4 linked regions of the Homo sapiens genome follow. The protein of the gene in region 3 purifies or fractionates together with the protein of the main gene of each other region. This does not show direct contact. Each region holds a gene or a part of one and is shown on either strand. Other genes may lie near its edges.

What was found.
Region 1: the proteins of WDR55 (region 3) and NOC3L purify together in Homo sapiens (affinity purification with mass spectrometry; 2 studies listed by BioGRID and IntAct, with this or other methods). This does not show direct contact.
Region 2: the proteins of WDR55 (region 3) and WDR12 purify together in Homo sapiens (affinity purification with mass spectrometry; 2 studies listed by BioGRID and IntAct, with this or other methods). This does not show direct contact.
Region 4: the proteins of WDR55 (region 3) and REXO5 purify together in Homo sapiens (affinity purification with mass spectrometry; 2 studies listed by BioGRID and IntAct, with this or other methods). This does not show direct contact.

Annotation. Positions count from the first base shown.
Region 1 is NC_000010.11:94,356,440-94,359,939, forward strand, and holds part of NOC3L (nucleolar complex protein 3 homolog), read right to left. Parts: intron 1,777-3,500; coding exon 1,644-1,776; intron 893-1,643; coding exon 735-892; intron 153-734; coding exon 96-152; intron 1-95. UniProt on the Homo sapiens protein: May be required for adipogenesis.
Region 2 is NC_000002.12:202,880,674-202,884,173, forward strand, and holds part of WDR12 (ribosome biogenesis protein WDR12), read right to left. Parts: intron 3,069-3,500; coding exon 2,936-3,068; intron 2,111-2,935; coding exon 2,038-2,110; intron 265-2,037; coding exon 187-264; 3' UTR 1-186.
Region 3 is NC_000005.10:140,663,404-140,667,703, forward strand, and holds the start of WDR55 (WD repeat-containing protein 55), read left to right. Parts: upstream 1-1,500; 5' UTR 1,501-1,509; coding exon 1,510-1,700; exon of another isoform or gene 1,701-1,754; intron 1,755-1,961; exon of another isoform or gene 1,962-2,034; intron 2,035-3,640; exon of another isoform or gene 3,641-3,710; intron 3,711-4,300. UniProt on the Homo sapiens protein: Nucleolar protein that acts as a modulator of rRNA synthesis. Plays a central role during organogenesis.
Region 4 is NC_000016.10:20,837,527-20,841,026, reverse strand, and holds part of REXO5 (RNA exonuclease 5), read right to left. Parts: intron 1,301-3,500; exon of another isoform or gene 1,273-1,300; coding exon 1,168-1,272; intron 697-1,167; coding exon 559-696; intron 1-558.

The DNA.
Region 1 (3,500 bases), on a different chromosome or scaffold from region 3:
ATGTACCTTCCAGATTTCATCTAAAATTAACTCACATTTACTATTATGCAAAAAAATTCTCAATTAACAATTTAGTAACTGTAAAGACATATTACCTTCCTCAAGTTCCCTCTCTTCTTCTTGATCCTCTTCATCTTTGTTACTATCAGTAACTATATGGAAAACATATGTATTAAAACTGTGATATATACTTAAGTGGTAAAAACTGTAAAGAAATGCTAGGAGGTGATTACGATAAAACTCAGGATAGCAGTTACTTTTATGGGAAGAGCACAATTAGTGATTGAGGTGAGCACAAGGGAGGATTCTGGAAGCTAGCAGTAGTTTTTTTTCCTTGTCTGAATAGTAGTTTTATAGGTATGCGCTTTGTTATAAACCATGTAACTTCACATCTTTGATATCTGAACTTTTCTGTTTTATTTCACATACAAAAGAAGATACATTAAAAAAGAAAGCTAATCAAGAACAGTTAATATGCTCTAATTTTAGAAACAACAAAATTTAGTGAAAAGAAAATCACCTGAACCTTGTAGCTTCAGTTGTCCTCACAGTACAAATTGGTACCTGAGATAATCTATAATTCTGGCCCAAATCATCAAGCTTGCTATAAGACTAATTGAATATTTTCTAGATATGGGTAAAATCAAAGTAAAATTAAATTTTGAGTGAAAAAAAAACATGATATCAGTAAGGGGGTAAAAGTTCAACTAATATTACCAGTTTATTAGACTCACCTGGCTTCTCCCTAGTCTGTGGGATTATACCACTTTTATCTTTGATAGGAAGTAAATGAATCAGTTCCTTCTCTGGTGCAGTTTGCAGAGTTCTTGGTATTTTTTCATATTTATCTATAATGCGTTCATGCTTCCGTTTCTTCGCATGAACAGGCTCACTGCAGGGGAAAAAAAGATCAATTTTCAGTCTTAATAGATCTAAAAAGTTATCTAGAGACCTATCATTTCAAAAGTACAGAAAAACCACCAGCCAACTTTCAATAGGTATATGGATAGTAGCACTTAGGCTAGTGTCTGGCACATAGCAGGCACTCAAACAGCAAATGAATAAAAGAAATGGGTAAACAACCTACCATACAAACTCAAACTTTGGCTACATCCAGTTTTCCCTCTAGATGCAAAATAAAGGTGAAAGTTACAGCAGATTCTTTATGAAGAACAGTTCATAAAACCAAGTGTGACTCTTACTTTCCCAAAATCTTTAGAGTATAGCATAGACTTTGGAGTTTAAAAGGTCCAACTTTAAATTCCAGATACTTGTGACTGCAGGGAACCATCAGTTTCCTCTCTGGAAATGGGAATAAGACCTACCAGCAGGGTAATGAGGATTAAGTGAAATCATAGCCGTAGGAACTCAGAACTGTTCTGCCACTACCTCAAAGTGAGAACAGCATTCTTCCCCCATTCACTCTACTTGACTATTCAGACTCAAAAGAAAGATGTACATTAAATGAAATCAGCTTATCTTATACATGAACCTCCTTTATTTAGGAAATAAGCTAAATAATACTTTATTCTTTGTAAACATTGTGCTCAAAGGTGAACACCTTGAACCACCTAAGTGAAATTCAGAACCAAGTTTTTAACACTAAATGGATATGAATGATTATAACCCAAATGAAGTATTACCTAGAAGAAAGATCTCTTGTTAGAAAAGATACTCTTTGTCCTAAATCCTTCATTAACTGTAAGTCATCTTCATCCATCATATCTAAAGGAAGGGCTTCTTCTTCTTCCTCTTCTTCCCTCTCAATCCTTTTACCTGTACCACACACACACACACACAAAGAAAAATTAGAAACAAGTATCAGAGATGTAGAACTCTCTGCATTTTGGGTTTAAACAGGAAAAGCTTACGCTTTCTGAAGCAATCCTCCCACTCCAGCCTCCCAAAATGCTGGGATTACAGGGAGTGGGCCATGGCTCACAGCTGAGCCCAGTGCTTCTAAATGGAAGAACTACTGATATGCTAGGCAAACAATTCTTTGTCGTACTGGGATGTTCTGAGTCTGGAAAAATGCTAGCATCTCTGACTCCTGCAATCTAAATGCCAATAGCATTCCCAGGTTATTGTAACAACCAAAAACTAAATGTCTCCACATACTCTGAAATGCCTTTCAGGACGTTTGGAAACCAATGACTTAGCCCCTCAGCTCCTTCTCATCTCCAATTACTTTCACTTCGTATTCCATTTCAGCCAGCCTCTCTAATGGCCACATTCCAAACCCTAGTGCTCACCCCTCTCTCTGACCACAAGCTTTTATCCTTCCAGCTCCCATTCAGTTACTTCCACAGCACTTCTTCCTTAACCAATTATGTAACCTTTCAATCCACTGACCACTCCACTTTCTATCTACCTGTGTGTTCTGTCTTCACTCCCTCACTTAGACTGCAAGATTATCACTTCAACCACACTCTTGCCAATATCCTCAACTATTTTTCTTTCAACACTTCAGGCACTCACATCTAACAAAATCCCAACAACAGATCATTCTAACTTCTCTTTCTGCTCACTGTCTGCGTCTTGCTCTCTTTCTCCATCTCCTCTTTTTATTTAAAAAAAAAAAAAGTCAACTAAGTGCCAGGCACTATTTGAAGTGCTGAGGATTCAACTATGAATAAAACAATCTTAGCATCTTTCCTAGTAGAACTTACAATTCTTCCTGACCCATTAAAACTCGTAAATCTTGGCTGAGCGCGGTGGCTCACACCTGTAATCTTAGCACTTTGGGAGGCCGAGACGGGTGGATTGCTTGAGGCAAGGAGTTCAAAACCAGCCTGGCCAACATGGTGAAACCCCATCTCTACGAAAAATACAAAAAATTAGTGAGGCGTGGTGGCACATGCCTGTAATCCTAGCTACTTGGGAAGCTGAGGCAGGAGAATCACTTGAATCCCGTAGGCAGAGATTGCAATGAGCAGAGCAGAGATTGCAATGAGCAGAGCAGAAATCGCCACTGAACTCCAGCCTGGGCAACAAGTGTGAAACTCCGTCTCAAAAAAAAAAACAAAAAAAGACCCTAGTAAATCTTGCTATATAAATGTACACACTGCACAGAATGGCACTCCTATCTACTTTAAATGAGCCTTCTAAATTTAATAATCCCATTAAAAAATGGGCAAAAGATATGAATAGACATTTCTCAAAAGAAGACATACAAATGGCAAACAGGTATATGAAAAGGTGCTCAACATCATTGATCATCAGGGAAATGTAAATCAAAATTACAATGAGATATCATCTCATCCTAGTTAAAAAGGCTTTTATCCAAAAGACAGGCAGTAACAATGCTGGCAAGGATGTAGAGAAAAGGGAACTCTCATACACTCTTGGTGGGAATGTAAATTAGCACAACCACTATGGAGAAAAGTTTGGAAGTTCCTCAAAAAACTAAAACTAAAAATGGAACTACTATATAATCCATCAATCCCACCCACTGCCAGGCATGAATCCAAAAAAAAGAAATCAGTATACCGAACAGATAT
Region 2 (3,500 bases), on a different chromosome or scaffold from region 3:
TATAAACACAACCTATCTTATTATAAATACAAAATAAGAAAAAGTGATACGTTAGCTGTTATGAAGGGTGAAAACATTATATAAACTTCAAAAGGCTGCTTTCTGCATCTGCATCTATGTAATTTCATGGTTCTCTACCAATTTCATTTACAGAAATAATCTCTATAGTCAAATTATTGTTCACTTTCATGCCCCAACATGGGAAGTGGTAGGTGAATATCTGTAGGAATACAATTTATTGTCTGCTCCTCCACTCAGAAGTAGCTGTGTAAAAGGAGAGAAAAAGACAAGAAAACATAAATAAATATAATTATTTCACATCATAGCTAAACCTAATTAAATACTAATGATTTTCATTACAAAAGGAATTATGGGTGAGCAGTTAACTTGCATTGAGAGTGAGTAAAGGGACCAACGTTGTTTCACTACTATACTATGATACAGTTTATTAAAACATTAAAAGCTATCATTTAAATTTGGTTGAGACATAATATGCTGTTGCACTTTCTATAAAGCATCTGCCAAGATACATAAGTTTGAAAGGGATACAGTTTTACCTATTAAAGAAAATTAAAAATTTTTAAAGGACAACACATTAATTGTATATTACAAATTATTCAAGTAGCCCTAGGCCTTATATTTGGAAAGAATTCTTAGGCAGTAAGAGCTTACGTATATACATAAAAATAATTAAATTGTAATTCTTTAAACACATTTTATAATGCAGACTTATGCAAGATTTTTCCAACTGGTAAACACTTTGATCCAATTAGTCTTAAGTAGTGAGTTTTTGGAGGTAAAATGTTTCATGAAGATACTCGTGGGGGCTAGGCACAGTGGCTCACACCTGTAATTCTAACACTCTGGGAGGCTGAGGCGGGAGAACTGCTTGAGGCCAGGAGTTCAAGACTACCTTGGGGAACACAGTGAGACCACGTCTCTACAAAAAATTTAAAAATTTGCCAGATATGGTGGCACCCACCTGTAGTCCCTGCTACTCAGAAGGCTAGGGCAAGAGGATCACCTAAGCCCAGGAGTTCAAGCCTCAATCTCTAAAAATAAATAAAGAAGATACACATGGGGGCGGGAGGATTGCTTGAACCCAGGAGTTCAAGGCTGCAGTGAGTCACGACCGCACCACTAACATTCCAGCCTGGGCAATAAAGGACCTTGTTTCTTAAAACAACAACAGCAAAAACAACAAAAAACCCACTATACTCACAAGAAAAAAAAATGCTCCAAAATTTCAAATTTACTATTCCTAGTATTATTATTATTTTGAGACAGGGTATCACTCTGTTACCCAGGCTAGAGTGCAGTGGCGCGATCATAGTTCATTGCATCCTCGACCTCCCAGGCACAAGTGATCCTCCTGCTTCAGGCTCAAGTAGGCTCAAGTAGGTCACACCACCATGGATAACTAATTTTTTAATTTTTGTAGAGACATCATCTCACTATGTTGCCTAGGCTGGTTTTGAACTCCTGGGCTCAAAGAATCTTCCCCCTTTCCCTCCCAAAGTGGTAGGATTACAGGCATAAGCCACCATGCCTGGCCTATTAAAGGACAAATTTGTTTCTTCTTTGAATGAGAGGTGACATTTTATAAATAATATTAAGTGAAATAATACAGAATTATAAATATCAAATATATTGAAACTAATAAATGTTTTTTTTTTCTTGAGATGGAGTCTATCTCCCAGGCTGGAGTGCAGTGGCTCGATCTCAGCTCACTGCAAGCTCCGCCTCCTTGGATCACGCCATTCTCCTGCTTCAGCCTCCCAAGTAGCTGGAACTACAGGCGCCCGCCACCATGCCCGGCTAATTTTTTGTGTTTTTAGTAGAGACGGGGTTCCACCTTGTTAGTCAGGATGGCCTCGATCTCCTGACCTCGTGATCTGCCCACCTTGGCCTCCCAAAGTGCTGCGATTACAGGCGTGAGCCACTGCACCCGGCCCGAAACTAATACATTTTATAAACACAAACACCAGATTTATTCTAGTCACTTTCCTCTTCATCAAATAACTAATAAATTCTTACCCCTGTGTCTGTCCAGTCTACACTCAGAACTTTGTCTTCATGAGCAGCCAGATCATAGAGAGGAGCCTTACAACTAAAAGATGAAAATATTAACATATTATATGCATTCACAGTGTTAAAACAAACATTTGAATAATCACTTATACTTATCTGAAAACTTTACAGGGTTTACCAACCTTGCCCCAATAACCACTTAATCTTAAAATTCTGTTTATTTGATCATCTCTCCTCTTTTTCCTGTATCATTGGTAGACCACAGACATTTATTATAACAAATATATTCAGAAAAAAATGTTATTTCATTTTAAGAATTTATTTATAATTAGGCCCATTTTCACACTTCCTTGACTACTTTAACCCCCAAACTATGGCCTTATATACTGTTTGTCTAGCTATCTATATGCAACAAAACAACATATTAACATGAATTTCTTTTTCTTTTTGAGATGGAGTCTTGGTCTGTTGCCCAGGCTGGAGTGCACTGATGCAATCTCGGCTCACTGCAACCTCCGCCTCCTGGGTTCGAGCGATTCTCCTGCCTCAGCCTCCTGTGTAGTTGGGATTACAGGAGTGCGCCATCATGCCCGGCTAATTTTTGTATTTTTATTAGAGACAGAGTTTCACCATGTTGGCCAGGATGGTCCTGAACACCCAGCCTCAGGTGATCTGCCTGCCTCAGCCTTCCAAAGTGCTGGGATTACAGGTGTGAGCCACTGTGCCTGGCCAAAAATTTTTTTGATCCTGGCTTTTCTTTTGCATATCAGTATTTGTCACATGAGGTTGCAAAACCATGAGGCTTTTTTTACTCTTCTGGTTTTAGATAAGAATTTCAGTATTCATTTCCTTTCTATAACAGGTAATTGATATGTTTCTCTTATAGATCATAAATAGAATTTACCTTCTTGTATCCCACAGCTTAACAATGTTATCTAAAGATCCTGAAATCAGCTGCTGTTCATGGGTAGGAGACCATTTTACTGATGTCACCCAACCAGTATGTGACGTTAGGGACAGCGACACCAAAGAACCATCTGAACAAAGCAAAAAAGACAAGCGTTGAATTTTAGAAAAGGGAAGTAGGTAGAAGGAACCCAAAAAATATTTGTAGAAATTTTTTTTTTGAGATGGAGTCTTGCTCTGTCACCAGGCTGGAGTGCAGTAGTGCAATCTTGGCTCACTGCAACCTCTGCCTCTGGGATTCAAGTGATTCTCCTGCCTCAGCCTCCTGAGTAGCTGGGATTACAGGCACGCGCCACCACACCCAGCTGATTTTTGTATTTTTAGTAAAGGCAGGGTTTCTCTATGTTGGCCAGGCTGATCTCCAACTCCTGACCTCATGATCTGCCCGCCTCGGCCTCTCAAAGTGCTGGGATTACAGGCATGAGCCACCACGCCTGGCCAGAAATTCCTTTTTTTGTACATCTCCAGAGAGATGAGAAATAGATGTTATTCACACATATATT
Region 3 (4,300 bases):
ACACCATGGTTCTATGGATGTAGGTAGGCAGTCCCAATTATTAAAAATGGTCACAGAGACATGGCACAGGTGAAGACATCTGGAGAGTCACTAAAAGCAAGACCTGGAGATTGTGGGTTTGAAATTCAGTTTCTGAGGCCAGGCTCGATGGCTCATGCCCACAGTCTCAGTGCTTTGGGAGGCCAAAGCAGGAGAGTCTCTTGAGGCCAGGAGTTCATGAGTCTATAGCTATGCAGGAGGATCGAACCGAAGAGTTCAAGGCTGTAGTGAGCTATGATCACACCACTGCATTCTGAGCCTGGGTGACAGAGCAAGACCTTGATTTAAAAAAAGAAATTCAGGGGCTGGGCGCCGTGGCTCACGCCTATAATCCTAGCACTTTGGGAGGCTGAGGTGGGAAGACACGTCAAGAGTTCAAGGCCAGCCTGGGCAACATACTGAGTCCTCGTTTCTACAAAATATACAAAAATTGGCCAGGTGCGGTGGCTCACGCCTGTAGTCCCAGCACTTTGGGAGGCCAAGGCGGGCGGATCACGAGGTCAGGAGTTTGAGACCAGCCTGGCCAACATGGTGAAACCCTGTTTCTACTAAAGATACAAAAAATTAGCTGGGCGTGGTGGCATGCGCCTCTAGTCCCATCTACTCGGTAGGCTGAGGCAGGAAAATCTCTTGAACCCGGGAGACGGAGGTTGCAGTGAGCCGAGATCGCACCATTGCACTCCAGCCAGGGCGAGACTCCGTCTCAATAAATAAATAAAAATTAGCCAGGCGTGGTGCCGCGTGCCTGTAGTTCCAGCTACTCGGAGGATCGCTTGAGCCGAGCGGTGATCGTGCCACTGCACTCCAGCCTGCGCGACAGCGCAAGACCCTGTCTCAAAACAAAGCAAAACAAAAAAGAAAAAAAAATTCTTGGTAACTGAGCACTGCTTGTCCAGCCCATTGAGTTTCTGTAGACAAATTGTAGGAACTGGCACAGCAAACTGGCCACAAAGACGTTAGGGGCGTGGACACCAGCTGCTTGAGCTGCCTGCTGTCCCAGACTCCCGTATGTCATCGCGCAGCGTGGGATTTTGCGGCTTCCTGACAGCCCAGGCTGTCGCTTGACTTGATCTTGGGTTTCACCAAGCCACGAAGGACTAGCGTCCCTCTCTCCTATCCCAAGGGCATTAAGCCTGTCTGGATGAAGTAGGAGAGGAAAGATTTACACGCAGTTCTCAACTTTACGTGACGTGACTAGGGAGGGAATTGACGGTCGCACCGTCTACCTAGCCCAAACGGGGTCACAGCAGGACAAGGAAGTAGCCGATCTCCCAGATGCGGTCTCTTCGCTCCGCTCCACCCGCACCAGCAGCGGCCCACCCACCTCTCCTGTAAGAGGAAGAACGTCCCGGAGACACTTCCGGCCCCGCCCCCCGAGGCGGAAGCGGAGTGCCAGGCTACTCCTCCCGCAGTGTGGGTGGTTCCGAGGCTGACTACCCTGCGGCGGCGCGGCTCGCAGTCCTTCTCAGCATGGACCGCACTTGTGAGGAGAGGCCCGCTGAGGATGGGAGCGACGAGGAGGACCCAGACTCCATGGAAGCCCCAACCCGGATCCGGGACACTCCGGAAGACATCGTGCTGGAAGCTCCGGCTAGTGGGCTGGCGTTCCATCCGGCCCGTGACCTACTGGCTGCAGGGGACGTGGACGGGGACGTGTTCGTGTGAGAGCGGGGCAGGGCCGGGGCGCCGGGTCTGGAAGCTTCCCGGGGGTGGACCTGGGAACAGGAGAGATGAGAGAAAGTTGCAGGGAGACAAATTTTGCAAGATTCTTTGGGTCCAATTTATTCAGTAACATTCGGCTCTTCTATCACACCAATCTGTTGAAAGAACTGGAATGTCGTGACAGAGCCCAGATACCGTAGTAGGCCAAAAAGCCCTTTAAGGCCTTGTTATTTCCCACCGATTATTATTTATTTACTTACCTATTTATTTTTGAGACGGAGTCTCGCTCTGTCGCCGAGGCTGGAGTGCAGTGGCGCGATCTGGGCTCACTGCAACCTCCCCCTTCCGGGTTCAAGCAGTTCTCTTCCTCAGCCTCCCGAGTAGCTGGGATTATAAGCGCCCGCCACCACGCCCGGCTAATTTTTTTTGTATTTGTAGTAGAGACGGGGTTTCACCATCTTGGCCAGGCTGGTCTTGAACTCCTGACCTCGTGATCCACCTGCCTTCCTCCCAGAGTGCTGGGATTACAGGCGTAAACCACCGTGCCCGGACTCCTACCGGATTATTATATTGTGCCCGAGACAGGCTCAGCAGGCCCCTTTAAGTGATTTTTCAAACCACAAATCTTGGCTCACGCCTGTAATACCCGCACTTTGGGAGGCCGAGGTGGGCGGGTCACCTGAGGTTGGAGCTCGAGACCAGCCTGTTCAACATGGTGAAACCCCGTCTCTACTAAAAATACAAAAATTAGCCCGGTGTGGTGGCGCGGGCCTGTAATCCCAGCTACACGGGAGGCTGAGGCAGAAGAATCACTTGGATTCGGGCGGTGGAGGTTGCAGTGAGCCAAGATCGTGCCACTGCACTCCAGCTTGGACAATAGAGTGAGACACTCCCTTGATTAAAACCCTTCAATGGTCTGCTTTTAGGATTTAGTACAAATTTCTCAATCCTGCCTTCAACGCCCTGACCATCTGTGCTCATTCATCCATACCTTTTAAAAATACGTCTTGGGCCGGGCGTGGTGGCTCATGCCTGTAATCCCAGCACTTTGGGAGACCAAGGTGGGGTATCACCTGAGGTCAGGAGTTGGAGACCAGCCTGGCCAACATGGTGAAATCCTGTCTCTACTAAAAATAGAAAAATTAGCTGGGTGTGGTGGCGGGCACCTGTAATCCCAGCTTCTCGGGAGGCTGAGGCAGGAGAATCGCTTGAACCTGGGAGGTGGAGGTGGCAGTGAGCCGAGATCGTGCCATTGCACTCCAGCCTGGGCAACAAGAGCAAAACTCCATCTCAAAAAAAAATCTCGAAACCTCAGCCCATTTGCATGTGCTATTCTGTCCGGAAAACTCCTTTCCCCTCACTTTTACCTACTATCTCTGAGTTTCCAGGATCTCTTCCCTCTTCCTCTCTCCCCAGACTAAAATTGGTTACCTGTTAGATGCTGCCATGGCACCAGGTGCCATGGTACCTTTCCCTTAATAATGAATGGTTGGTAACCATATGTCCATTTGTGTAATTATTTGAATGCTGTCTCCTTCACTAATGTTTTTCAAACGTCTTTGACCTTGCCTCACAGAGAAATACCTTTTACATTATATATGATGCTCTGTGATACAATTGCTGATTTTATTCTATTATTGTGTACATGTACACAAAATGCTGATCGTAGCTTACTAGTCCGTTATATGACTAGAATGTGAAAAAACACTGTTCTGGAGTGTAATCTGTCATCGGTTTTGTTCTCTATTTTATCTCCAACCTCTAGTCTAGGGTAGATGCTCAACACATGTTTGATTTTGAACAAAAGATACAGGTTAGAGGCAGTGGAAAAGTTGAAGATGTTATGCTTATCAGATTTACTTAATGAATTTAAACCTCAACCCCTCATTAGCTGTAATGGCCTTGAGCGTGTTAACTTCTGTATTTTCATCTTTGAAAGGGGGAATTATACCTACCCTTGCAGAGGGGACAAGTTTGCAGTACAGCACCTAAGCAGCTCTTCAACAAATGTAGGTTCCCTTCTACTACTATCCATATTTATGGTGCCAGGCACTTGGGAGTTGCCCTAGACATCCACCTTTCTTCACATTCCACACAACTTTGTTGCTTCCCTTGTCTTAAAAAAGGTTCTGGAGGAAAATTCTTGGTTCTCCCCTTCCCCACCCTCAGCCATGACTATTGTGAAAAGGTTCCTTTTCCGAGGATTAAATTCAAACTTCTGCTTGGCTCATGTGGTCTCATGCCCACCCCAGCCCATCTTTCTAGATTCAGTCATGCTACTCTCCTGCTACAAGGAACCCTCCTCATTCCTTATCTCTGCTGCCTCCAGTATCTGGCCCTTGCTCTCTGCCAGGCAAATTCTACTCTTGTATGATCCAACCCACATGTCACCACCTTAGCTTTCCAGGGCTCTCTTCTCCCTTCCCAAGTATTCATTCAATTTGTGAATGTTTATTAAGCTACTTTTTCACGTTCAGCACTGGGATAGAGAAAATGAGCAGGCTCAGTTCTGCCTACCTGGAACTCACTGGCAATTAAGCATGTATTCATTCTGCCCTTTTTGAGGATCTGCTCTGAGGCAGGCACTTGGGGGTATTCC
Region 4 (3,500 bases), on a different chromosome or scaffold from region 3:
CCTACTCTGTAATGTAAAAAAAGAAGTAACTTTCTAAGATATGAAAGTTACTTCTCTTTTTGAAAGAGTATTTTATCATTTAAAGCTGAGGTACAATCATAAGGACCACAGGTTATATTCAACCAGCAGACATATTTTTTCGTATGGCCTGGTATTTGAGAAATGGGAGCCAACATATGAAAACTGACAGATTTCTTAATTCTTGTTTTTAAATTGTTTGTAGCAATGTGGTCTCACATTGCTTGAGCCCAGGCTGGTCTTGAACTCCTGGGCTCAAGCAATCCTCCCTCCTCAAACTCCCAAAGTGCTGGGATTACAGGTATAGGCCACTGCGCCCAGCCAGATTTCTCAATTCTTTAAACACACACAACAAAAGATCTCACAATACTGGGTATACATTCTTGTGGGTCAACAACTGCTCTCATTAGAGTATGTCTCACACTCCAGTTGGTAGCAATCAAGCTTACTTTACGAATATTTGCTATCTGCATGGCCCAAGCAGTCACCTGAATGTCTAACACTAATCTAGAAAATGAAATCTGAATTTTCCGGTCTTACCTGACGGGTTTCAAGAACAAAAGTCATTGACTGGACTGGGCCAAAGCTTTTAAACAGCCTCTTCAGAGCCCTGAGATTGCAATTTTTGCTAAATGGCCCAGCATAGACAGTTGATATCTCTGTCCACTTGATCCTCATCTGTAGGAAAAACAACAGAATATAGTATGGGAATGAATATGGAAAGAGAACTGAAATCATGAGTCAATGCATGGGATTATTCACCAAAGATTTTTTTGATATAAATACTTGCCAAATGTCCAAGGATGTTCACTGAAGTATTATTTGTAATAGCAAAAATGTATAAAGCACAAATGTTAATAGGTATATCATATAGCAGAATACTATGTAGCCATTAAAAACAAGGGAAATAAGATATGTAGTGATACAGAAAGATGTATGATATACTGTTAAATGAAAAAATAAAGTTGCAAAACAGTATGCATAGTCTGATTCCCATTTTCATAAAAATATTTTTAAATGTTAATATGCAGATAGTAAAAATCTAGAGAAAAACACAACAAATTAAATAAAGCATGTATTACTTTCCTTAATGATGAGAGGTTATAATAAGTCACTAAATAAATCATTCAGCAGAACCCATTCACTTACCCTTTTGTTCATCTCCTCAGTGAGGACAGGTGAAAAGGCCTTAAAAGAGAACTGAACAATGCTGAAGGGAAACAGGGGGATTTCCACTCTGGCCTGCTCAAGAACCTGTAGAGAACAGCACAGCCTGGATAAGGTAGGAACCTCATACTCTATTGTGGCTCCTGGATATGAGCCACAATAATATAAACAGTAGTTGTCTTTTTACGCATACTGAAAGGTAATATGGGGCTGACTTCCAGGTCTGCAGGAAAATGGTGAAACCACACACCTTCCCCAAAGAACCACAGAATCAATAAAAAGAATAAAAATAAAATACATATGAGCCATACCTTCGGCATTACTAAGAGACAAGGGCTATTACAAAAATTTTCAAATGACCTGTAATTAAATAAATAAGTGTAACTCCCACTATTGTAAACTGCTGCAAGCCTGTGAGTAGGGAAAGCAAGGGAGAGGAGGCTTAATAGATTTGGTTAAAAAAAAAAAAATCAAGGGGCATGGAAGAATTAGATGAAGCATAAAAAAACCCCAAAATAAAAACTCCAATTAAATGTCAAATAAGGAACATGGGTCATGATTTTGACAGTTCTCAGCACTTGACTACAAGCAAGAGGCTTGGCAGCCTCAGAGAAGCCATGCTTCTGGAGAAGAATCAGATATATAGAGAAAAGGTGGTACTCCTTGGAGACACTGCTGTGAAGAATGCCAACTCTTCTGAACAATATTATAAATTCCTCCCTTCCCTCAACACCACACCATCATTCTGGAAATGGAGAACTAGGAAGCTTCACTTCAGCCTCTCACTCTCACAGAAACAATGAGTTAACAACAATATACGGACCAGAACACCTTTGAGAGAACTGTAGAGATTCCATGAGAAACTATATAGCACCTAGACCAGCATGAAACCAAGAAGGGTTTCCAGTAAATGGGAAAGGAAAATTTGTGATGTTTTGTGGTCCCATCTACACCTCTCCCTATCTGACATAATATGGCTTCTTCCACACCACAGATCTTCTCTTGGGATGGAAAAAAAAGAGGGGACCATGTGTCCAATGTTCTGGGTACTGTGGGGGCTGTCTGAGGGACTATTTTCTGTTTTGCGTGACTCGGAAGGCTGACAGGACTGAAGAAGGCCTTGTTTGGAAGCCACTGAAAACAGATGTGATCACCATGGCATGTTAGAGCTGCAGTAAGAAACCAGGGGAAGAAAGAGATTATGGGCTCTGAAAAGAAGTAGGGACAAGGGGCTCAGGGAACAACTAAAGGCACATGCATAACCCCAGAGAAGACAAATCTCCAGAACAGGTTTGGGAGGTCATGAAATCTCTAACTAGGCTGATTGGTGAAGGTCTTCCCCTGCACGAAGCAGTCTGTAAAGACAACAACTGGGTATTTATTCAAATGCCCAAGCCTCAACAATACCAACAACAATAAGTCACAAGGCATACAAAGAAACATAGCCCAAGTTTCACTTCTGCAAAATAAAAAAGTTATAAGATCTCTTTCACAATAATATAAATATACCTAACATTACTGAACTATGTACATAAAAACAGTTAAGATGGTAAATTTTATGTTTTTTACTACAATAAGAAGAGAGGCAGGAGAGGAAAGGGAGAGAGAATCCCTTGATAAGTAGAGGAAAAGCACAAAAAAAGAAGAAAAAACTGCACTGAGGAAGGCAGAATAAAAGAGATGCTCTTGAATGAAAACCTTGTTCAAAAACAAATCAGTAAAATTAGAAAATAGTAGACCATATTAATCTAAACTACTATTAAAAAAACAGCAACAGCTGGGCGCGGTGGCTCATGCTTGTGATCCTGGCACTTTGGGAAGCCAAGGTGGGAAGATATTTTGAGCTCAGGAGTTTTGAGACGAGCCTGGGCAACATAATGAGACCTCATCTGTATAAAAAATTTAAAAATTAGCCAGGCATGGTGGCACATGCCTGTAGTCCCAGCTACTTGGGTGGCTGAGGCAGGAGGATCGCTTGAGCCCGGAGGTCAAGGCTGCAGTGAGCTCTGCTCACGCCACTGCACTCCAGCCTGGGCAATAGAGCAAGACCCTGTCTCAAAAACAAAAACAAAAGCCAAGACATAAAGTGAGAATCGAAGCATTTCAGCTGATGAAAATTATTCCCCCTAAAAAAAAAAATCAACCATGGGGCTAAAGGATACAGTTAACATTACGGTCTAAACTGAATTGAATATTAGCAGCCAAGCATTTGAGGATATGAAAAAGCAACTACAAGTTGTCAAGAAAGAATAGATTCAAGTGAAATTTTAATAAAGGGCATTAATGAAAAGCATGGAAAGAATTAGGAGTATACA